Regions from separate parts of the Homo sapiens genome. Here region 1 is linked to region 2. The links come from fine-mapping of genetic effects on gene expression. A gene starts in region 2. The other region holds a variant in brackets. All regions are shown on one strand. Distances are from middle to middle.

Evidence for each region. PIP is the estimated chance that this variant, and not a neighbour inherited with it, causes the effect.
Region 1: its variant is fine-mapped to the expression of FOLR3 in monocytes (Quach 2016, PIP 0.93).

What each region holds. Positions count from the first base shown.
Region 1 is chr11:72,155,963-72,168,506 of GRCh38, forward strand. It overlaps FOLR1-AS1 (FOLR1 antisense RNA 1), which reads right to left. Exons shown (of 3, transcript NR_199595.1): 3 at 7,360-7,417. It also overlaps the pseudogene FOLR1P1. Among named protein-coding and RNA genes, the nearest start is that of FOLR3, 27 kb to the left of the region's middle. RefSeq lists an enhancer at 8,764-9,573. The variant CA/C (reference allele first, on the strand shown) is at 6,992.
Region 2 is chr11:72,128,074-72,139,936 of GRCh38, forward strand. It overlaps FOLR3 (folate receptor gamma), which reads left to right and starts at 7,652. Exons shown (of 5, transcript NM_000804.4): 1 at 7,652-7,695; 2 at 7,874-8,047; 3 at 10,888-11,076; 4 at 11,274-11,409; 5 at 11,514-11,819. The coding sequence starts at 7,880. The coding sequence ends at 11,758. It also overlaps the pseudogene RPEP6. RefSeq lists an enhancer at 10,758-11,261.

The DNA of each region.
Region 1 (12,544 bases), 28 kb after region 2:
GCTTCATTTTACCCAGCCCCTATTCAAGATGGGGTTGCTTTGGTTGAAACGCCTCTGACAGACCCACCAGAGGAGCCCTTCAGTTTGTATTAATATGATATGTGACTACTTATTTCACAGACACTGTGTGTCAAATGTCGGTACAATGCCAACAACTCACTTTCTTGGTTGTTGAGTTTCCGCATTACACAAATAAGGAAGCAGGCCCAGAGGAGAGCCTGGGAAATGAAGTTGGAGAGACCCATCCTGGGGTTGCTTGATTTAGGGATTTAGACTGGGAATGACTCCTCCATAGATCTGAAAGAAGAAACTGCACACTGTTCATAGTGGCTTCTTTTCTGCCAGCCCTAAACAGCTCAAGAAAGGAGAGTCTCTCAGTTATGAGGCTGGGTGTGAAGCATTTTTTTTTTCTTTGAGAGAGGTCTTGTTATGTTGCCCAGGCTGGTCTCCAAATCCTGGGCTCAAGCGATCCTTCCACCTTGGCCTCCCAAAGTGCTGGGATTACAAATGTGAGCCACCACATCCGGCCTGAAGCATCTTGGTTCATGCATCTAGCAAACCTTCAGTCTGTGTCTCTCAATCCCACTGGACATGAGGTCTGCCTATAACAATTATTTGGCTACAACCCCTTTAATATCCTGAACTTAGCTAAACAGTTATTTTAAAAATCCATATTCAAATATAACTAAAGAAGAAACAGAGGAAAAGTAATTTGTAATATGGATTTCTATTTATATTCGTTTTGACTCCATTAGCAGATAGCAGTCACTGCCCTGTTTGCACTTGTTTTGAATCAGTGAGCCTGTAGCTGCCAAGTGCAGACTAACAAGAGGTAAATAACCTGTATACCTTGAGCAGCTCTGACTTTAACTTATTCTTTTATTTTTTATATTTTTATTTTTTTTTATTTTTATCTCTTTTTAGACATGAGGTCTCACTATGTTGTCCCAGTTGACCTCAAACTCCTGCACTCAAGTGATCCTCCCACCTTGGCCTCCAAAGTACTGGGATTATAGGTGTAAACCACTGTGCCTGGGCTTTTATATATTTTTTAAGTGCACATTTTAATGTTTAGCTTGTCAGCCTTAAGTAACGAGATCCAGAAAGCTTGAGGATAGCTACACAGAAGCATAGATTCAAGTTGTCCTGAATATACACTTCGATTCACAGCAGTTACAAGTGAGTTTTTAAGGAAACAGAATAGTTCCTAAGTTGTTTATCAAGAATTTAAAATAAAATAACATAAGCAATTCATTGGCTATACATTGTTTTTTGTATCACAAATTCCAGGAACAGATAACGGGTGAGGCAGCTAGTCAGGGACAAAACGCCTTGGAACAATTGTCTCTGGGCATGGGTGGGGAGGGTGTGACTGAAGTTCCATACTCATGCCTTTCTGGGCCTGATAAATTGGGCATGTCTCACATCATGAGACTGCTCTGAGCTATTTTTCTTTTCTCAAGCTTTATACCAAATTCTAGGCCGTGGGCTTTCATTCATTCAATAAGTATGTATTGAGTGTTTATGTAATCGGAACTCTTCTGGGGTTACAATTTAACTTACTTTCTCACCTCCGAATGGTTATCACCTCAACGAGGACTAAATCCAATGATTTTTTTTTATCTTGCCAAAATTCCTATCTAAGGGGTCTGGGGAGTCATGCCCTACAAATCATAAATTCTCATCAGATGGGTTTTATTTAACCCTATATATCATGACTTACTTTCCAACCTGACTCTGGCATAACATGACGAGACAAGGAAGAAAAGCAAAATATTTTAATATTTTTACCTCAAAACATGTTTCTTTGCCATATCTTGAAATGGCCCTGCTACTGTCCTTTGTGGGGGAAAATTTTCATCTGTAAAGAATCTCTATTAACATAGCTGGATCTTTTTCTACCAGGCCCTTCCAATCATAAAGAGATTAACTAAGTGTAGCACCTTTTATAGATCTGAATAGGAAACACTTGTCATCTGTTGTTTCTAAGGGCAGCCACTATAAGACTTCAAAAGAACCTTGGTCTCCACAGTCTTTTATCTTAACATTTCTTTTCTATCAACCCCAGGTCTTTAGACAAACTCAACCAATTGTCAACCATAAAATGTTTAAATTTACGTATAGCCTGAAAGCCCTGCCACCCCACTTTGAATTGTCCCACCTTCCTGGACCAAACCAATGATTTTTTTTTTTTTTTTTAGATGGAGTCTCCCTCTGCCGCCCGTGCTGGAGTGCAGTGGTGTGATCTCGGCTCGCTGCAACCTCCGCCTCCTGGGTTGAAGCAATTCTCCTACCTCAGCCTCCTGAGTAGCTAGGATTACAGGTGCCTGTCACCACGTCCAGCTAATTTTTTGTATTTTTAGTAGAGACAGGGTTTCACTATGTTGGCCAGGCTGGTCTCAAACTCCTGACCTCAAGATCAGCCTGCCTTGGCCTCCCAAAGTGCTGGGATTACAGGCGTGAGCCACCGTGCCTGGCCAATGTATTCCTTAAATGCATTTGATTGATGTCTCATGCTTCCCTAAAATGTATGAGACATCCTTCTCCCCTGATTGTTTTCAAAAGCAGTGATCCATTGAGGTGCTCATTTTTGTAACCCCAGTTACTAGAAAAGTGCCTGGGTAAGAGTATGTAGGATCTCTATAAAAGCTGAATTAACGAATTTTGTAATGACTGCACCTCCAGACAGGAGCTGTCTTCCGGGCTTCCACAGTCTCTGACAGCCCTCTCCCACAAAGAGTTTACCAACAGCAAGGACTTTCCTGGATGACTTCCACTGGGTTGGGGATTAAGGATTGAAAGGGGAGAGGCTGGGTGTGGAATATTCTGGCTGTGCTGGCTGTGGACTTAGTCCTGTGTCTTCCCGCATCCAGTGTAGTCTCTGGAGAAAGAATGCCTGAGCTTTACCAGCACCACCCAGGAAGCCCATAAGAATATTCCCATCTATATGGATTCAACTGGAACCACTGTGGAGAGATGGTACCTGCCTGCAAACGGCACTTTATCCAGGACACCTGCCTTTACGAGTGACCCCCCAACTTGGGGCCCTGGATCCAGCAGGTACGCATGGCTTCCTGGCATCCAAGAGCTAGCAGAGGAGCTGAATTTTCCAGGCGTCTCTGCAGGCAGCAACCCCAGCTCCAGTTCTATTCAGGGCTGGGTTCCTGGGATTCTTGAGCCTGAGCCCTTCTTTTCTACCAAAATCTCCCAGGTGGATCAGAGCTGGCGCAAAGAGTGGGTGCTGAATGTGCCCCTGTGCAAAGAGGACTGTGAGCAATGGTGGGAAGATTGTCGCACCTCCTACACCTGCAAGAGCAATGGGCACAAGGGCTGGAACTGGACCTCAGGTGAGGGCTGGGGTGGGCAGGAAAGGAGGGATTTGGAAGTGAAGGTGTGTGGGTGTGGAACAGGTGTGTGACATTTTGGGGTTGTAGGGCTGGCAGAATCAGAGACCCTTTGGGGCCCAGTGGCTAAAGGTCTTCCCTCTTCCCTACAGGGTCTAACAAGTGCCAGGTGGCAGCTGCCTGACTACCTTTCCATCTCTACTTTCTCACACCCACTGCTCTGTGCAGTGAAATCTGGACTCACTCCTACAGGGTCAGCAACTACAACCGAGGGAGCAGCCGCTGCATCCAGATGTGGTTCGACCTGGCCCAGGGCAACCCCAATGAGGAGGTGGCAAGGTTCTATGCTGCAGCTCTGAGTGGGGCTGGGCCCTGGGCAGCCTGGCCTCTCCTGCTCAACCTGGCCCTAATGCTGCTGTGGCTGCTCAGCTGACCTCCTTTTACCTTCTGATACTTGGACATCCCTGCCCTGTTTAGCCCCACAGCTCCCAACTATTTGGTTCCTCTTCTATGGTCTTGTCTCTGACAGCCACTTTGAATAAACCAGACACCACACATGTATCTTGAGAATTATTTGGGTATGAATGGGAATGTGGCTGTTTTGTTTCCCATTTCTTATTGATTGAAGCCAGTTAGACTGGGCTAGTTCCCAGCTCTGATGCTTGCTATGAACTAGCCTGATACTTAAGTATTCTTCTAAGGTAGGAGACATTTGTAGCTCTCGATTTTATTATTCACTATAGCTCCAATTTAGAGCCAAGCCCAGGCATTTTTCTTTTTTTGAGACAGGGTCTCACTCTCTCACCCAGGTTGGAATGGAGTGGCATGATCTCAGCTCACTGCAACGTCTGCCTCGTGGGCTCAAGTGATCCTCCCACCTCAGCATCCCAAATACTTGGGACTACAAGCATGTGCCACCACACCTGGCTAATTTTTCAATTTTTTGTAGAGAGGAAATCTTGCAATGTTGTCCAGGCTGGTCTCAAACTACTGGGCTCAAGCAATCCTCCTACCTCAGCCTCCTGAGTAGCTGGGTCTACAGGTGTGAGCCTCCACATTCAGCTAATACATATAATATAAAACATGTATTATATATGTAATAGTAGAGACAGGGTCTCACTATTTTACCCAGGTTGTTCTCAAACTCCTGCGCTGGAGTGATCCTCCCAAAATGCTGGGATTACAGGCATGAGTCACTGCATCTGGCCACAAGTCATGTTTATTTCTTGCTCAAGCTACAATGCTGAATGTGGGTTATCAGGGGGATTCTGTTTATTTCTCATTCCTGGACTACATTAGCAGCCAGGGGGTTCTGCTTCTCACTCAAGAACCCACGCTGATGGAGGCTCCATCTTCCATGAGACAGGAAGAGGGAACTTGGCAAATTCCATAAGGCTCTTCAAATTTCCACCCATCACTTATTTCATTGGCCAAATCAAGTCATGAGCATGCCTAAATTCAAGAAAGCCAGGAAAACATAATCCTATCATGTACTTGCAAGGAGAGGGGAATCACAAGGTTTGCAACAGACCTAATCATGAGTAAAAAGACTTCATTATTTTCTCGTAGATTTCTGTTTCTGGCATGGTCATAGTTACAAATTTAATTTTTTGGTTAGATCCTAGTAAGAAGGAGGACCAACTCTCTATACATATGCAAATAACTACATCAACCTGAAAAGTGGAGCAATCCACTGATGACCGCCCTGGCTAGTCTTGTAAACAAGGCCAATTGATGCCTTTTCGCCCTTCATTTATTTCTATTTATTATTTTTATTTTTTGAGACAGGGTCTCTTTCTGTTGCTCAGGCTGGAGTGCAGTGGCACAGTCATGGCTCACTGCAGTCTTGACCTCCTGAGCTCAATTGATCCCTCAACTTTAGCCTCCCAAGTAGCTGGGACTACAGGCACATGCCACCATGCTGGGCAAATGTTTTGTATTTTTTTTGTAGAGATGGGGTTTTGCCATGTTGCCCAAGCTGGTCTTGAACTGCTGCGCCCAAGTGATTCATTCACCCACCTTGACCTCCTAAAGTGCTGGGATTAGAGGCGTGAGACACCTCTGCCAGCCCACTGATTTCTTTTTTGAACCGAAAGCATAGTTGATCAATGCAAAAGCTAATAATTGGATATTAACAAAATTCAAAACTCTTGCACTTTAAAAGACACCCTTAAGAAAATTAAAAAACAAGCAACAGACTGGAAGGAAATATTTGCAAACACATCTGATAAAGGATCTGTATCCATAAAATACAAAGAACACTTACAACTCAGTAACAAGAAGGCAGACAACCCAATCAAATAATGGGCAAAAGAAATGAACAAATATGTCATTAAAGAAGGTACACAAATTATGAATAGTTACACGAAAAGATGCTCAACATTATTAATCATTAGAAAAATGGAAACTAAAACCATAGTGATAGACGGTTTTATACCTACTAGAATGGCAATAATAATAATGATAGGCAATAACAAGCATTGGCAAGGATGTGGAGAAATGGGAACCCTCACACAGTGCTGGTGGGGATGTAAAATGGTACAGCCCTTCGGAAAACAGTGTGGCAGTTTCTCAAAAAGTTAAATGTAAAACTGCCATACAACCCAAAATTCCACTCCCAGGTGTCTACTCAGGAGAAACGAAAACAAACATAACAAAACTTAAATATGAATATTAATAATAATCATATTTATGTATGTAAATATGATGTATCATTTATGTATGTAAATATGATATATCATATTATGTATCATTATATATAATAGCCCCAAGCTGGCAATAACCTAAATTTTTAGCAGCTGGTGAGTAGATAGACAAAATGTGGTGAATCCATACAATAGAAGACTGTGCAGCAATGAAACGTGATGACACATGCTATGTCGTGGATGAGCGTCAAAAACATTATGTTAAGTGAAAGAAGCCAGACCTAAGAGGCTTCATGTGGCATGATTTCACTTACATGAAATGTGCAGGGAAGGCAAATTTATAGAGGCAGAAAGTAGATTAGTAGTTGCCTGGGGCTGGAAGTGACAACAGGGATTAATTGTAAATGGGCATGAGGGGGGATAAGAATTGAGGGGATGATTCTGAGTTTCTGTGGGGTGTATCCATGAGGGAAAGTATTCTAAGGAAATTGGCATGTGGCTCCATAAAAATCTATCATCTGAGACAAACTCCATTCCCATCATGAACTTTAAAATATTGGTTGGAAGCCAAGCATGGTGGCTCATACCTGTAATTCCAGCACTTTGGGAGGCCAAGGCAGGTAGATCACTTGAGCCAGGGATTCTAGAACAGCTTGGGCAACATGGTGAAACCCCGTCTCTACATAAAAATACAAAAAATTTAGCCCAGTGTGGTGGTCCACGCCTGTAGTCCTAGCTATGCAGGAAGCTGAGATGGGAGGATCTCTTTAGCTCAGGAGGTAGAGGCTGCAGTGGGCTATGACTGTGCCACTGCAGTCCAGCCTGGGTTGATAGAGTGAGACCCTGTCTCAAAAAAAAAAAAAAAAAAAAATAGGAATTGCTGGATGGTAATGTTGTAGGAGTTTCTCCTCAGTTCAGCCAAAGACAGGGTCCTTGTCACCTGGCCATGAAATATTAGGCTTGCAGACACTTTGAAGGGTGAGAAAAATGGAATTTATTGGG[CA/C]AAAAAAAAAAGCGGGGAAACGGGGACCCTCGGCAGAGTGAGAGTCCTGCTAGTACACGCTTCCCACCTCTCAGGTTGAATCCCAGGTTCCACCCTGGAAGAGGAGGGGCCAGGCTCCTCAGCACGAACTTCCAGAGGCTCCACCCCAGTGCACATTCCTCCCAGTGTGCGGGTTTGTCAGAGGTTCTCTGGGGACCCCTTTACACTTGGCTGTCTCATTCCCCCCTCTCAAGAAGTACATCAAACTACTGTTAGAACAAGGATAGGGGTGAGGACGAAGACCGATCTAAACTGCTTCCTGCTAACAGGGAGCGGTGTTTTGGGAAACGGCAGTCAGAGCTCCCTCAGAAGCCTATCTAAGGGTTCCCGGCAGAAGGCGCCATCTTCCGAGGCTCCGGTTGCACGACCATTTGGAGTTTGATGGCCTGAAGGCAAGAGGAGAAAAACCAGGTTATTAGAAAACATGTGTTAAAACGAAACAAGGGAGGGTAAGGACAGCTTAAAATCCCTAGGCCTTTTACCAGTTTGCACAGGGAGAGGGAAACCAAAAGCCCGACTGGTAAAAAAAACTTTACCCTTTTGCCAGCATGTCATGCTTGTGGGTTCCCTTCCTCTGAGCCCAATCCTAAGCCAACCAGCTGAAGGTTTGGGAAATTAACTCTTTCCAGTTTGGAGGATGCATCTGAGGGGAGTGTCCTATAGTACAAAGACACAATTACCTATTAGTGAAGAGAAGACAGTGGAGAAGAAAGGAAAAAAAGGTGCTTTTTAAAGGAGTCCCAGGGGTTCAGCATGCATTCAAAAGGGGTACAGAGTGAAGATGAATGGCTACCCATCTAGAAAGAGGGGAGCAGGCATCCCTGTCTCCTATCTCTTTCTAGCAGATACCAGGGGTACATGAGGGAGAGAAGGAAGAGCGTCCTCTTTCCCTCTTCTGTCCTTGCATACCCAAGTCCTGGTGACCTTGGCAGGTGCTGCCATGGGTGCCACAGCAGCTTGCACCCATGAAGCAGGGAGTACCTAGAGAATAGGAATTATCAGCCAGACTCAGTGGCTCACGCCTGTACAACCCAGCACCTTGGGAGGCCGAGGTGGGCAGATCATGATTTCAGGAGTTTGAGACCAGCCTGGCCAACATGGTGAAACCCCGTCTCTACTAAAAATACAAAACTTAGCTGGGTGTGGTGGTGCATGCCTGTAGTCCCAGCTACTCGGGAGGCTGAGGCAGGAGAATCACTTGGTCCCAGGAGGCAAAGGTTGCAGTGAGCCAAGATCACACCACTGCACTCCAGCCTGGGCAACAGAGTAAGACTCCATCTCGGGGAAAAAAAAAGAGAGAATAGGAATTATCCGCTCTTACCTATGTTTCTATACCCCCTACAGTCAGTAGTCTTGGAGTTTCCTAGACCTCATTTATGCTGTGGGGAAAAGCAAGAGAGATCAGATTGTTACTCTGTCTGTGTAGAAAGAAGTAGACATAGGAGACTCCATTTTGTTATGTACTAAGAAAAATTCTTCTGCCTTGAGATTCTGTTAATCTATAACCTTACCCCCAACCCTGTGCTCTCTGAAACATGTGCTGTGTCAACTCAGAGTTGAATGGATTAAGGGCGGTGCAAGATGTGCTTTGTTAAACAGATGCTTGAGGGCAGCATGCTCCTTAAGAGTCATCACCACTCCCTAATCTCAAGTACCCAGGGACACAAAAACTGCGGAAGGCCGCAGGGACCTCTGCCTAGGAAAACCAGATATTGTCCAAGGTTTCTCCCCATGTGATAGTCTGAAATATGGCCTCGTGGGAAGGGAAAGACCTGACCGTCCCCCAGCCCGACACCCGTAAAGGGTCTGTGCTGAGGAGGATTAGTAAAAGAGGAAGGAATGCCTCTTGCAGTTGAGACAAGAGGAAGGCATCTGTCTCCTGCCTGTCCCTGGGCAATGGAATGTCTCGGTATAAAACCCGATTGTATGCTCCATCTACTGAGATAGGGAAAAACCGCCTTAGGGCTGGAGGTGGGACCTGCGGGCAGCAATACTGCTTTGTAAAGCATTGAGATGTTTATGTGTATGCATATCTAAAAGCACAGCACTTAATCCTTTACATTGTCTATGATGCAAAGACCTTTGTTCACGTGTTTGTCTGCTGACCCTCTCCCCACAATTGTCTTGTGACCCTGACACATCCCCCTCTTTGAGAAACACCCACAGATGATCAATAAATACTAAGGGAACTCAGAGGCTGGCGGGATCCTCCATATGCTGAACGCTGGTTCCCAGGGTCCCCTTATTTCTTTCTCTATACTTTGTCTCTGTGTCTTTTTCTTTTCCAAATCTCTCGTCCCACCTTACGAGAAACACCCACAGGTGTGTAGGGGCAACCCACCCCTACATATGCCATGGATACTAGCATGACCTTTATCCATGAAATGGGAGGCTTGGCTTGATTGGCAGGAATTAGCCATGCTCACTTGCACGCACTGTGCCTTTTTTTTTTTTTTTTTTTTTTTTTTTTTTGAGACAGAGTCTCGCTCTGTTGCCAGGCTGAAGTGCAGTGGAGTGAACTCGGCTCACTGCAACCTCCGACTCCCTGGTTCAAGTGATTCTCCTGCCTCAGCCTCCTGAGTAGCTGGGATTACAGGCACGCACCACCATGCCCAGCTAATTTTTGTATTTTTTTTTTCGAGATGGAGTCTTGCTCTGTCGCCCAGTCTGGAGTGCAGTGGCATGATCTCAGCTCACTGCAACCTCCACCTCCCAGTTCAAGCGATTCTCCTGCCTCTACCTCCCAAGTAGCTAGGATTACAGGTGCATGCCACCATGCCTGGCTAATTTTTGTATATTTAGTAGAGACGGGGTTTCACCGTGTTTGCCAGGATGGTCCCGATCTCCTGACCTCATGATCTGCCCGCCTTGGCCTCCCAAAGTGCTGGGATTACAGGTGTGAGCCACTGTGCCCGGCCTTGCACTGTGCCTTTTAACCCCTGTTATCATCTGCCTCTGAATCCCTTAGATCCAGTTTTCTTTCCTGGGGCTTTGACTCAAAGCTTGGAATAGAATTTGAAACAAAAATATGTGTCTAGGAAGGGCTGCATGGACTCCTTATCATAAGCCAAATGCTAAGGAAGGTGAAGCTGCAGAATTGAGTCCTCCTCCAACAAGGGAGAGAAAAAGATGTCTTGTGACATGCCCAGATAATTGGTGGCTATAGTTATGTAAGCTAGGATTTGGGTGCATGGTGCTTGGCTTTGGTTAGCTCTTACTTTCCAAAAAAGGAAACCTCCGATTAATGGGCATCCTATTTATTCCCATCACCTGGCAGGATTTGCAGGATAATTGCTCAGAACTAAAATATTGATCCAGATTTTTACATTACCCATCCTCTCCTTCTTTCTGAGCTGCAGCTGGAGATTGCTGGTTGGTTCACAGGAACAAGGAGTGTTAGCCTAAAAATGTAGGCAAAAACTTAAACACTAATGACTTTAGAATTTATTGACAAATGTATGGTGTTTTGAAACATAATTTCTCTCTCTCCAGTCCTCATTTTTGTTAAAAAAGCAAATTATGGTAGGATTGAGTTGTTTGCAAAATAGACTTTAGTCATATACTTGGCCTGATTATTTGCATAAAGTGCAGCAAGAATAACTATTTCTACATAAGTCTTTTAGATTGGCTTTGATGGAACTCTGTTCTTCAAGGAATTTCAGACAAAACGTTTTAAAACTGAGCCCAGCCATGGATTTGTATCCTCAAATACCTGTAAGTTGGATGATCTTCTCGTGTTAAGGTCCCATGACAAATTTGGAGCTCCTAGACCTGTTAGAAAGTGACATTCTTGGCCAGGCGTGGTGGCTCACACCTGTAATCCTAGCACCTTGGGAGGCCGAGGTGGGCGGATCACCGGAGGTCAGGAGTTCGAGACCAGCCTGGCCAACATGGTGAAACCCTGTCTCTACTTAAAATACAAAAAATTAGCTGGGTGTGGTGGCAAGTGCCTGTAGTCCCAGCTATTTGGGAAACTGAGGCAGGAGAATCACTTGAACCTGGGAGGCGGAGGTTGCAGTGAGCCGAGATCATGCCACTGCACTCCAGCTTGGCGACAGAGCAAGAGTCTGCCTCAAAAAAAAAAAAAAAAGAATACTCACGGATAATTTCCAAATTCTGGAGAAGCCAGGCAGAGAGAGAGAAAAATATGCTTCAAATTTTGTTCACAGGAGTGTAGCTTACTCTAGTATTAAAGGCCTTAAAGAGTTCAAAATAATTTTCCTTGACTCTGAGAAACAAAACAAGGATCAGCAATATTCCAAGCAAAAGTCAAAAAGGTTGCTTCAGCTTTCTGAGTTCAGTCCATTCAGTTCTTGTTATGCTTGATATTCGTGAACATTTTAGCTCTTCATGAGTCCTGTACATTTTCCTTTATTCCAATATCACAGTCTCCAAAGTTATCAGAAACCTGTATTTGAGAGCACCTGTCAGAGTCCTATAGCTTATTACAAACCAACTTTATTTTTTTTTGAGACAGGATCTTGCTCTGTTGCCCAAGCTGGAATGCAGTGGTGAGATCTTGGCTCACTGCAACCTCCACCTCCTGGATTCAAGCGATTCTCCTGCCCCAACATCCTGAGTAGCTGGGATTACAGGTATGTGCCACCATGCCCGGCTAATTTTTGTATTTTTTTTTTTTTAGTAGAGATGGGGTTTTACCATGTTGACCAGGTTGGTTTTGAACTCCTGACCTCAGGTGATACCCCTGACTTGGCCTTCCAAAGTGCTGGGATTAAAGGTGTGAGCCACTGCACCCAGCCGGATCAGGCACTTTTAACTTGAAAACATGAAGTTCTCTTTCCTAACTTTTTTCTTTCTTTCTTTTTTTTTTTTTTTTCCGAGACAGGATCTCACTCTGTCACCCAGGCTGGAGTGCAGGGATGCCATCACAGCTCACTGCAGCCCTGACCTCCTGGGCTCAAGCAATCCTCCCAGCTCATCCTCCCAAATGGCTGGGACTATAGGCTTAGACCACCATACCCAACTAATTTTTGTATTTTTGTGTGAAGATGAGGTCTCCCTATGTTTCCCAGGCTGGTCTTGATCTCCTGGGCTCAAGCAATCCATCAGCCTTGGCCTCCCAAAGCACTGGGATTATAGGCATGAGCCACCAAGGACGGCCCCCTAATGTTTTTTATATTGGCTAATGAGCTTTAAGTTTATACATACAAGGCATAAAGAAATAACTTTAAAGTTATGTTATTAGATGTACAGTGATATGATTTAGCTCTGTGTCCCCACCCAAGTCTCATCTTGTAGCTCCCATAACTCCCATGTGTTGTGAAAGGGACCTGGTGGGAGATGATTGAATCGTGGAGGTGGGTCTTTCCCGTGCTGTTCTCATGATAATGAATGGGTCTCACAAGATCTGATGGTTTTAAAAACGGGAGTTTCTCTGCACAAGCTCTCTCTTTGCCTGGTGCCATCCACATAAGATGTGACTTGCTTCTCCTTGCCTTCCACCATGATTGTAAGGTCTCCCCAGCCATGTGGAACTGTAAATCCAATAAACC
Region 2 (11,863 bases):
AGCATTTCAAGAAGCAGAGCTAGGAAAGCATGCAGTTTCCAGGGCCTAATAAACAGGCATAGCTGGAAGACAAAAACAGATTTTGAAAGGGGTCTATCTGCTTTTAATTCCTGGGGTTCTATAAGAAAAACAGAGTTTTTTTTTTTTTTTCCAAAATGGGATCCGTGGTGACTTCTCTGTTTTTCCCAAGGTGTCTTATGCTCTCAGAAGTTATCTTAGGGCCTCTCATGCATGCGTTAAGAGTGACAAGACAAATTGGGGAAAAATAATTCAGTTGACTGAGAAAAAATTGTTTTGCAGAGAAACAAGATCCATGAAGAAAAAAACACAAAGGCCTTTTAAATATACCTATAGCTTGGATATCCACTTTTAATTAAGCTGAGCACTCTTTAAGATAACCCTTTTAAATCCCTTAGTACCCAACTTTAGCCATGCCAAGCCACGAATATTTCTGGCTTTTGAACTTTACCATTTCTTTCAACATTTTGCACAGGGAGAGAGAGGCCAGAGGCCCGACTGGCAGAAAACTTTTACCCTTCTGTCCACATGTTCACAATTCTTTCCCCTTCTCACTCCATCCTTATTCCACTCTCAGCCTTCCTCATCTCAGTAAATAGCCAAGCACTCCTCTCTAATTGCTCAGACCAACACACTCTGGAGTCATCCTAATTCCTCCCTTTCTCTCATGTCCTCCATCTCAGCAAATCCTATCAAAACATCCTTCAAAAGACATGACATTACTCCTCCCTTTTCACCACGTCCACTGCCACCACATAGCCCTGGTTCAAGTCATGGTTGCCTTAAGGCTGGGCCATTCACATAGACATCTGTGTCAATTGTTTGCTTTCCCTTGTCCCTAGAGTCAGATCAGATGCTGAACTGGAAAAAGCAAATAAAGTTTCCATTTCATTCAGAGTAAAATCCCCCATCTTTGCTGAGTCTGAACCACGGGGCCCTGAAGATCTGGCCTGGACCCCACACCTGCCGCTCCCAGCTCACTGCTGGCCACACTGGCCTCCTCCTCGCTGTTTGTTCCTGAAATGCACTGAGTACATTTTTGCTTCAGGGCCTTTGGACCTACGGGTCCCTCTGTCTGGAGCACTCCTTCCTCCATGTTCACATGACTCCCTTCTTACCTCATTATGGTATCAGCCCAAGCATCACCTCCTAGATCTTTCCTGTAGAAGATAGTAGCCCCTGCTTCATCACTCTCTGTCCCCTTAGCCTGCTTCAGTTTTCTTCAGAGCACAATCATCATCTTTATTTGTTTTCTGTCGTCTCTCTCTAACAACCTCCCACCCCCAAACTAGAATGTCAGCTCTATGACAGTAGGGACTTTTTCTTGGTCACTTCTGTAGCTCTAGAACCCAGAACAGCCTAGCACATGGTAGATGCCCAATAACTAATTCTGAGCTTAGTTTTTGAATGAATCCCCACTTCTACCCTCCTGGTCAAGGCACCATCATCCCAGGCCTGGACTTGTGAAACAGCTTTCTAACTGGTCTACCTTGCCCAATTCCAGCCTACACGTAATCCCATCTGAACACACCAAGACTGCCAATTGAACTGTGACATTCCCCTGCTTAAAACTCTTTCACTGTGACCAGTTGTAGAAACAACATTTTGTTTATCCATTTATCCATCCGTGGACACTTGGGTTGCTTTCAACTTTTAGCTATCGTGAATTAATGCTGCTGTGAATATGACTGCACAGATAGCTGTTTGCATCCCTGCTTTCAATTCTTTTGGGTGTGTGCGCACAAGAGGAATTGCTGGATCATATGGTAATTCTATGTTTAATTTTTTTTCACAGCATCTGGACCATTTTACATTCCCCCTCCACTAGATATGTTATTATATACAAAGGTGGACGGCTATACAAGGACATTCCCTACAGCATTGACTATAACAGTGAAATATGAGAAGCCACTTAAATTCAATAGAATAATGAAATAGAATCATATAGATCTATGTACACAGATAAGGGACCATCTATAGTACATTCTGTTAAGTAAAGCAAGCAAAGTGAGCTGGGCACAGTGGCTCATGCCTGTAATTCTAGCACTTTGGGAGGCTGAGGTGGGAGGATCACTTGAGCCCAAGACGTCAAGGCTGCTATGACCTATGATTATGCCACTGCACTCCAGCCTGGGTGACAGAGAGAGACCCTGTCAAAAAGAAAAAGAAAAAAGAAAAGAAATCAAAATGCAAGGGAATTAGGGGTTATTCTTCTTCCTGAGGACTGGTGCCATGGCATCCAGAGAAAGAACATTGGTGGGGATACTGATGAAAAAGAATAAAGTTTGTAGATTAGTTAAAAGTATTCCCTTAATGTTAATTTCCTGATTTTTTAAGTAATTGGGCTTTGGTTTTGTCAGATGCCAACATTTGGGGAAACTGGATGAAAGCATATGGGAAACCTCTTTACTACTTTTGCAATTTTTCTGTTAAGTCTAAAATTATCTCAAAACACTAAGTTAAGAAAATCAAATAAACTTGATGTCTTAAAACAATACCAATTAGGCTGGGCGCAGTGGCTCATGCCTGTAATCCTAGCAATTTGGGAGGCTGAAGTGGGCCGATAACCTGAGGTCGGGAGTTCGAGACCAGCCTGGCCAACATGGTGAATCCCCACCTCTACTGAAACTACAGAAATTAGCCTGGCATAGTGGCATGTGCCTATAATCCCAGCTACCTGGGAGGATGAGGCAGGAGAATCACTGGAACCGGAAGGCAGAGGCTGCAGTGAGCTGAGATCACACCACTGCACTCCAGCCTGGGGGACAGAGCAAGACTCTGTCTCAAAACAAAACAAAACAAAAACACAATACTTATTTACTTATACTTCAAGATTTTGTGAGTTTAATTATACTTCAAGATTTTGTGAGATTTTGCCCAAGAATTTGGGCAAGACTCATGATTGGCCCATCTTGGCCGGGCGTGGTGGCTCACCCCTGTAGTCCCAGTATTTTGGGAGGCCTAGGTTGGAGGATTGTTTGAGCCCAAGAGTTGAAGACCAGCCTGGGCAACATGGCGAAACCTCCTCTCTACAAAAATACAAAAATTAGCTGGGCGTGGTGGTGCGTGCCTGTAGTCCCAGATACTCAGGGAGGTTGAGGCTGCAGTGAGCCATGATGGTGCCACTGCACTCCAGCTGGGGTGACAGAGTGAGACCCTGTCTCCTAAAAATAAAAAATAAGGTAAAATAAAGATTGGCCCATCTACCCTCAACAGTTGCCTGGACTCCCTGGGGCTCAGTGCACCTAGATGCTGGACTCGGATAACCATCTGATCTTTGATGTAGTGGACAGACACTTTGTTCTTGCCATCATCTTTGGTACCTGAGATAGAAAGCCTTAAAGAGAGGCCACGCCCATGATTAAGTTTCAGGTCAAAACAACGAGCAAAAAGGCAACGGCTATAGTTGTAGGTGTAGCAAATCAGTGTGCCTTTTATCTAGAGGCTACTGAAAACCAGACATTCATTAAAGATATTCTGGTCACTTGGATGAAGGCTGGCCTTGGCATTCACCTGAATCTTTAGTAGAGTCTTTAGCACCATTGGCAACTCAGCCAGACCTGGCCTTGGCCACGATAGTGGAGCCTGGGATTGGAGGGCATGAATTTTATGAAGCCTGTAATATCAGAAATTCGTTGGTTGAGGACATACCTCTTTCTTTTTGGACCCTGTGGGCGTAATGCTATTGATACATGTGCAGAGGAGGAATTAATATGACTGTGATTGACAGAATAATTATGAAGTGCAAAGACCTCAGATCTGTGATCAGCTTCCATAGAAGTATTTGCTCAGAAGCTTCTCAGAAACATTCTCATGATTGAAGAAGCCTTGAAGAGCCCGTATTTCTGTCTATGAAATCTCCTGTTTATTGTACTATGAGGACCCATCAGAAAGTAACTGAGGTAGTGCTGATTTCCTGAGCAATTATTCAGTCCACTGTCTCAAATCCATCATGCAGAATGTTCACAGAGGGTAAAGTAAGTTTGACTATTATAACTACTCACTTTTATAAGTGATTTAATTTAAAGATTAATATGATAAGTACTCTGTTTTTCCTGGGAATTTTGTTGTAGAAAGAGTAACTGCTGTGTGGCTAAACTAAGGTTATAAGCCAAATTGTTTCCTCAGAGTTTAAGAAACACAATACTAACTCTCATGGGTTTACTAGTTGTCTGTTGCTGCATAACAAATCATTCCATAATTTTGTGGTGTATTGCTGCAGACAATGTTAAACTAAGTGGATGAAAAGGATATTCACATAGTCTCAGAGTGTCTCCCTACAAGGTAGGATTACTAACAAAGGGAAACTAATAATTATATAGTAAGGAAATCTCCTTAACCCAATAATCACCAGCAATAAGATGCAGCAACCCTCATCATGTACCTCTTGATATGATGCACTGACAAAAGCACCTCTCTTCTCTAATTTTCTTGCCAAAATGCATAAGCTCAAGCTAATTACAGGAAAATATAGACAAACCCAAATTGAGGGACATTCTGCAAAATAACTGAACAGTAATTCTCCAAAAGTGTCAAGGTCATAAAAGACAAAGACATTGAGGAACTGTCACAGATTGGAGGGAGACTAAGGGGACATGACAACTACATGCAACCTGGAATCATGGACTGAATCCTGGGCCAGAGAAAGGACATTGGGGGGGAAACTGGTGTAAAGGGCATAAAGCTTGTAGATTAGTTAACAGTATTGCCTCAATATTAATTTCCTGATTTTTTTAAGAACTGGGCTTTGGTTACATAAGATGCCAATATTTGGGGAAGTTGCATAAAAACATACGGGAAATCTTTTGACGATGTTTTGCAGTTTTTCTGCAAATCTAAAATTATTTCAAAACAAAAAGTTTAAAAATCAAATACACATAGTTGCTTGAAATAGTAACTATTTTATTATATTCCAAGATGTTGTGAGTCAGGAATTTGGCCAAAACTCAGGTGGGCGATTCTTCTGCAAAGACCCCCACAACACATTCAAAGTCACAGGCAGAGGTTGTTGGGGGAGGGCATTGAAAAGAAGAGAAGAGTCATAGGTGGGTGCAATGGAGGGAGGGCAGAGGGCTGCTGACTATGGTGCAGGACTCATCCATAATGGAGCCCTGGGGAGGCAAGGGCTTCATAACTAGACACTGGTCTTGTCACCTCAGACTCACCTGTAGCAGGACCAGATACTGAGGTCAGACTGAAAACACAGGCTCTGCCTCAGGAGAGGCTCTCTACTAGCTGAGTAAATGATGACAGTATTGGAAATGTTCCCAACATCATAATGGGAAAACATCACTTCACACTACATAAGCAATACACAGGGGCAGTGCCGGTCGTCTTCCCAGGTTAGTAGCAGTTCTACTGCCTCCAAGAGTGTTGGAGAAATACAAACCAAGCATTAGGCACTTTTAACTTGAAAACATGAAGTTCTCTTTCCTAACTTTCTTTGTTTCCTTATTTCTTCTTCTTCTTCTTCTCCTTCTTCTTCTTCTTCTTCTTCTTCTTCTTCTTCTTCTTCTTCTTCTTCCTCTTCTTCTTCTTCTTCTTCTTTCTTCTTCTTCTCCTTCTCCTTTTCCTTCTTCTTTTTTTGCTGAGACAGGGTCTCACTCTGACAGTACAGTGGTGCCATCACAGCTCACTGCAGCCTCGACCTCCAGGGCTCAAGCAATCCTCCCAGCTCACCCTCCCAAATGGCTGAAACTACAAGCTCGCACCACCATACGTGGCTAATTTTTCTATTTTTGTGTGCAGATGAAGTTTTCCTATGTTGCCCAAGTGGTCTCAAACTCCTGGGATCAAGTGATCCATCCACCTCAACCTCCCAAAACGCTGGGATTACAGGTGTAAGCCACCACACCCAGCCCACTAACTTTTTTATATCGGCTAATGAAATAGTTTTAAGTTTAGACCCTACGAGGCATAAAGAAATAATTTTAGTTATGTTATCAGATGTACAGTAATACTCAAGTGTGCAACTGTGGATAACTTGAGTTCATGAGGTTTTTGTTTTTTTGTCAAAAGAATAAATTTATAGTGAAACTACCCAAAAAAGCAAAGTACAGAACAGTATGCTACCATTTGTGCACAGAAATGGGATATATATGGTGTAACTGCATCGAATTTACTGGATGTATGTCCAGGGACCAGAACTCTTGGTGGCTTCATGTTCATACTTTTGCAAGCACATGTGTAGTATCCTTAACTTAAAGGTACTGTTGTATACATTCTAGTGTTATCAAAATTTACATACATATTATCAAGTCAGAGAGGTCATTCTGTGTCTTAGTATTTTCACTTCATATTTGGTATATTTATGTATGTATACACACATACCTATATGTATTTAAATAAGATTTATAGTCACATGGTCCAAAAATCAAAACAATGTGGAAAGGTTTACAGAGAAAAGTCTCAAGCCTAATCCTGTTCTCTACTGCCAGGTGACCATGTTATTAATTTCTTTTCATACCTTGCCACAGAATTTTCACCTGCAAACACAGATATTCTTTTCTTTTTTAATGACAGAGTCACGTTCTGTTATCCAGGCTGGAGTGCAGTGGCGTGATCTTGGCTCACTGCAAACTCCTCCCGGGTTCAAGTGATTCTCCTGTCTCAGCCTCCTGAGTAGCTGGGATTACAGGCATGTGCCACCACACCCAGCTAATTTTTGTATTTTTAGTACAGATGGGGTTTTATCATATTGACCAGGCTGATGTCGAACTCCTGACCTCAAGTGATCCGCCTGCCTCGGCCTCCCACAGTGCTGGGATTACAGGCGTGAGCCACCACGCCCAGTCAACACAGACATTCTTACTCCTTTTTTACAGAGAATTTATTATTATTATTTTTTACATAGCATTTTTCTGCACCTTTCTTTTTCCACTTAACAATGCACTTGAAGATTTTTCCATATTTGTACATCAGGAGCTTTCTCTTTCTTTGTTACCACATTAAATTCCACTGGGTAGATGTACCATAATTTAACTGGGTCCTTATTGAAAGACAATTGAGCTGTCTCCTAGACAAAGCCTTGTGCACCTTCCCGAACAGAGGGTCTAACCAAGCAGGCAGGATGGGGTTATAAAGTAGGTGGGGAGGTGGGAGAGACTCCACCTTCCCAGGTGGGCTGAGAATGGAGGTAAGGCCCTGCAACAGGACAGAGGGAAAAGTGGGGATGAGAGGTGGGAGGCGAGATAGCGCCCACTGTTCTCGCTCAGCCCCCTCCTCCGTTTGCCGCTGACCTGTTGGCCTCCCCCAACCTCTGAGCCTGCCTCTGCCTAGGTAATTTCCCAAGACCCAGAAGGGGTGAAGGGTGAGGTGTGATTGCCCCCACCTCCTTGCCTCCCGCAGCATCTGCTCCGGGACCATGAACAATAGCTGACAGCTCCATGGCCCTTGCTGTCCCCATCTCAGCTTCCCTGGGCATCTAAACCTCAGCTGCCATGGGGTAGGAGGACAGGCTGAGGAAGCAGAAGCCTGAGGCTGTCTAGAGTCTCACTCCTGCATCAGCAGGCCACCACCTGTGGTTCCTCCTTGTGCAAATTTGAAAAGAATTGCATAAAACACTGGAGAAATCCAAGAGGGGAAGTCCACAAGGGCGGTGGCTCCCTACAAGGTCACAGAGCAAGCTGGTGTCAGAGCCTGGACCTACAGCGCTGTTGGTGGAGGTCCTGCCTCCAGGTAGGGGAAGGGCTCCCTCTCACCTCTACACGCAGCGCATTTCTTGGCTCAGCTGCCCTGTAGGGGATGCAGGGTGGGGACAGCAGAGATCTGGGCCTGGGAGGGAGAGAGTACACAATCACATGGCTGTTGCCCCTGTCTCAGGCCTTGTCTACCTCTGACTGTGGCTCTCTGGCAGGAATAGATGGACATGGCCTGGCAGATGATGCAGCTGCTGCTTCTGGCTTTGGTGACTGCTGCGGGGAGTGCCCAGCCCAGGAGTGCGCGGGCCAGGACGGACCTGCTCAATGTCTGCATGAACGCCAAGCACCACAAGACACAGCCCAGCCCCGAGGACGAGCTGTATGGCCAGGTGAGGGCAGCCTGGTGTAGGACAGCATGCACACAGGTCAGAGGGTGATGGCACGAGCAATGGCAGGTCCAGTGTGGTCAGAACCAAGGGTGCCGCTGCTGACAAGGAAGGGGAGGGGCGGCCAGGGCCACCATGCCACAGGTAAGGCCACTGAGGCAGCTTGGGGAATATGAGCTCCAATTTGAACTCCAGGCTCAGGAGTGTGCTTGTATTTCATTCCTCTGGTCTCCTGGCCTGCTCCCTACAAGGTTTCACATTCCCAGAGGGCTGGGGATGTGCCTAGGGAGAGACTGTGGCGTGGACACAATCTGTGGGTTAAAGCGAAGACAGGACAGCCTGGAAGCCCCATGACATCTGAGTCACTCCCAACATTCCATTTGCTTATTTTTAAATCGGGGTTAAAAAAAAAAAACAAATACATAACATACATTTTCCACTTTAGCCATTTTTAACTGTACGGTTCAGTGGCATTAGGTATGCTCATGTGGTTGTGCAACCATCACCACCATCCATCTCCTGACCTCTTTCATTCTCCAAAACTGAAATGGAAACTCTGTGCCCACCACTTCATTTGCTTTTCAGAACCTTCTAGAGCACATCCTCCTTGCCAGGAAATGGTGTGGATGTAGACCTTTGAGAGAGACAGATGACTATCATTCTCAGGGCCATGAGCTATATGAGAGTGATGATATTTGTTGAGCCCTTACTATAGCAAGGGAGTTCTTCTCATTGTACTCAGTAACTCTTTTGGAGGCAACAACCCTTGACCCTGACAGGCAGGACCCATGTCTGCCAAACCCTAAGACCCATGATGTGCAAGGGGTCTTGCAGGAAGACCAAGAGTTGGAACATCCAAGGAAAAGCAAGTGTGAAGTCGGGCTGGCAGGGAAGCATGTTCTGTGTCAGCCGGCACTGGGCGTGGGCCAGGGTGTGGGAGGTGGGTAGGTCTGGCTCCCCTCCCATGGATTTCCCTATTGTTTCTCCTGGGTGCTCAGGCCTGTCACGCCTCTGCCATCACTTGACCCTAGGTGCAAGGGTTCAGCCCAGAAATTTTATGCAATTGATTCATGATTTCTCAGGTTTTCTGAGTCCTGGCCTAGAGTGACTTCCCAAGAAAAAACTCCACCATTTCTGCTTGTCTTACCTGCCTTGTATTTACCTTTCTAGGATTGCCTTTTCCACATTTAGTCAAGTCTAGGTTCAGACCCACGTGCAGGCTATAGCTCCTTCGTTCTCCACCACTCTCAGGATCTATCTAGAGTCTCCCCACCTGGACCTCCAGACCCTGGGAGAGCCAGACCAGCCCCTTGACCTCCACCCTCCCCCACAACCTGGGCCAGGTTCCTCTCCTCCCTGTCCTCAGTTATAATTTTTTTTTTTTTTAATTTGAGGCAGAGTTTCGCTCTTGTTGCCCAGGCTGGAATGCAATGGCATGATCTTGGCTCACTGCAACCTCTGCCTCCTGGGTTCAAGTGATTCTCCTGCCTCTGCCTCCTGAGTAGCTGGGATTACAGGCGCCTACCACTGTGCCTGGCTAATTTTTTGGTATTTTTAGTAGAGACAGGGTTTCTCTGTGTTGGTCAGGCTGGTCTCGAACTTCTAACCTCAGGTGATCCGCCCGCCTCCTTAAATCTTAACCTCACTGTTTACCATGGGTGTAGCTTACTTAAACTCTGTAAAAATGGGGGTAAGGATTCGTACTGGGTTGTTGAGAGGATAAAGCGCAAAAGCCTCAGGGACTTTGCACCTATGGTTTTCTATGCCTAGAGTGTTCTTTGTCTCCCTTCTACACACAGCCCACCCACCCACTAAAACCATACCCTCCCTGAGGGTAGAGGTGTTATTTGTTTTCTTCACTGTGGTGTTCCTAGGACCTAGCACAGTGCCTGATGTATAATCAGCACTCAGTTAATATTGGCTGGATGCAAAATGAATAATATAAATAAGCTGAATAACATGAAATAGGCCGAACGCGGTGACTCACGCCTGTAATCCCAACACTTTGGGAGGCCAAGGAGGGTGGATCACCTGAGGTCAGGAGTTCGAGACCAGCCTGGCAAACATGGTGAACCCCCGTCTCTACTAAAAATACAAAATTAGCTGGGCATGGTGGCACGTGCCTGTAATCCCAGCTACTTGGGAGGCTGAGGCAGGAGAATTGCTTGAACCCGGGAGGTGGAGGTTGCAGTGAGCCAAGATCACGCCACTGCACTCCAGTCTGGGCAACAGGAGCGAAACTCTGTCTCAAAAAAAAGTTAGTTTAATAACATGAGATCACTTTTTAAACCGTTAAGAGCTGTACTACTAATAATTACTCTCTCAGACAGTGGCTCTCCCTCATCTCCTATATCCCGTGGATTACCCTCTGTTAAAAGCCAAAATTAAGCAGGCATGGTGGCTCACGCCTCTAATCTTAGTATTTTGGGAAGCTGACATGAGCCAAGGAGTTTGAGACCAGCCTAGGCAACATAGTGAGACCCCATCTCTACAAAAATACTTTATATTAGCCAGGCATGGTGGCATGTGCCTGAATTCCAGCTCCTCGGGAGGCTGAGGTGGGAGGATTATTTGAGCCCAGGATGTTGAGGCTGCAGTGAGCTATGATCACACCACTGCGCTCCAGCCTGGTCAACAGAGCAAGACCCTGTCTCAAATAAATAAATGAATAAATAGGGCGGAAAGCACCAATATTGTAATTGCCTCCGTCCCCAGGTGGGAGCTCCTCAAGGGCCCTCCCCAGGAAGTGTTCCTCTGGATGACCTACCTGGGGCAGAGGAGCCAGAATATGGAGGAGATGGCTGTGGTGGGGAGAGACTTAGTCCTGTGTCTTCCCCACCCAGTGCAGTCCCTGGAAGAAGAATGCCTGCTGCACGGCCAGCACCAGCCAGGAGCTGCACAAGGACACCTCCCGCCTGTACAACTTTAACTGGGATCACTGTGGTAAGATGGAACCCACCTGCAAGCGCCACTTTATCCAGGACAGCTGTCTCTATGAGTGCTCACCCAACCTGGGGCCCTGGATCCGGCAGGTATGAGTGCTGTTCCCACAAACATTAACCTCAGCAGAGGGCGGAGCCTGCCAGTTGCTGGCAGGGAGGGCTTGGTCCAGGAATTCGGGTCTGAGGGTGGTGGACGCCCTGCCCCCTCCCACAGCTCTGGTCCCCTTCAAGGGTAAAGCTGCTGAGATACGTGGCTGACAGGAGTATTCTGTCTCCTCCCCACTCAGGTCAACCAGAGCTGGCGCAAAGAGCGCATTCTGAACGTGCCCCTGTGCAAAGAGGACTGTGAGCGCTGGTGGGAGGACTGTCGCACCTCCTACACCTGCAAAAGCAACTGGCACAAAGGCTGGAATTGGACCTCAGGTGAGGACCTGAGGAGATAAGATGAGGAGTGGGAGTGGGGCTTTGGGGTTGGGAGGGGTGCGGTCTGGCCCAGAAGCTAAGGGTCTTACGTTCTCCTCCCTCAGGGATTAATGAGTGTCCGGCCGGGGCCCTCTGCAGCACCTTTGAGTCCTACTTCCCCACTCCAGCCGCCCTTTGTGAAGGCCTCTGGAGCCACTCCTTCAAGGTCAGCAACTATAGTCGAGGGAGCGGCCGCTGCATCCAGATGTGGTTTGACTCAGCCCAGGGCAACCCCAATGAGGAGGTGGCCAAGTTCTATGCTGCGGCCATGAATGCTGGGGCCCCGTCTCGTGGGATTATTGATTCCTGATCCAAGAAGGGTCCTCTGGGGTTCTTCCAACAACCTATTCTAATAGACAAATCCACATGTGTCTTGTGTCTTGTAATTTCGGGACGAGTGGGTTGGAGGGACACA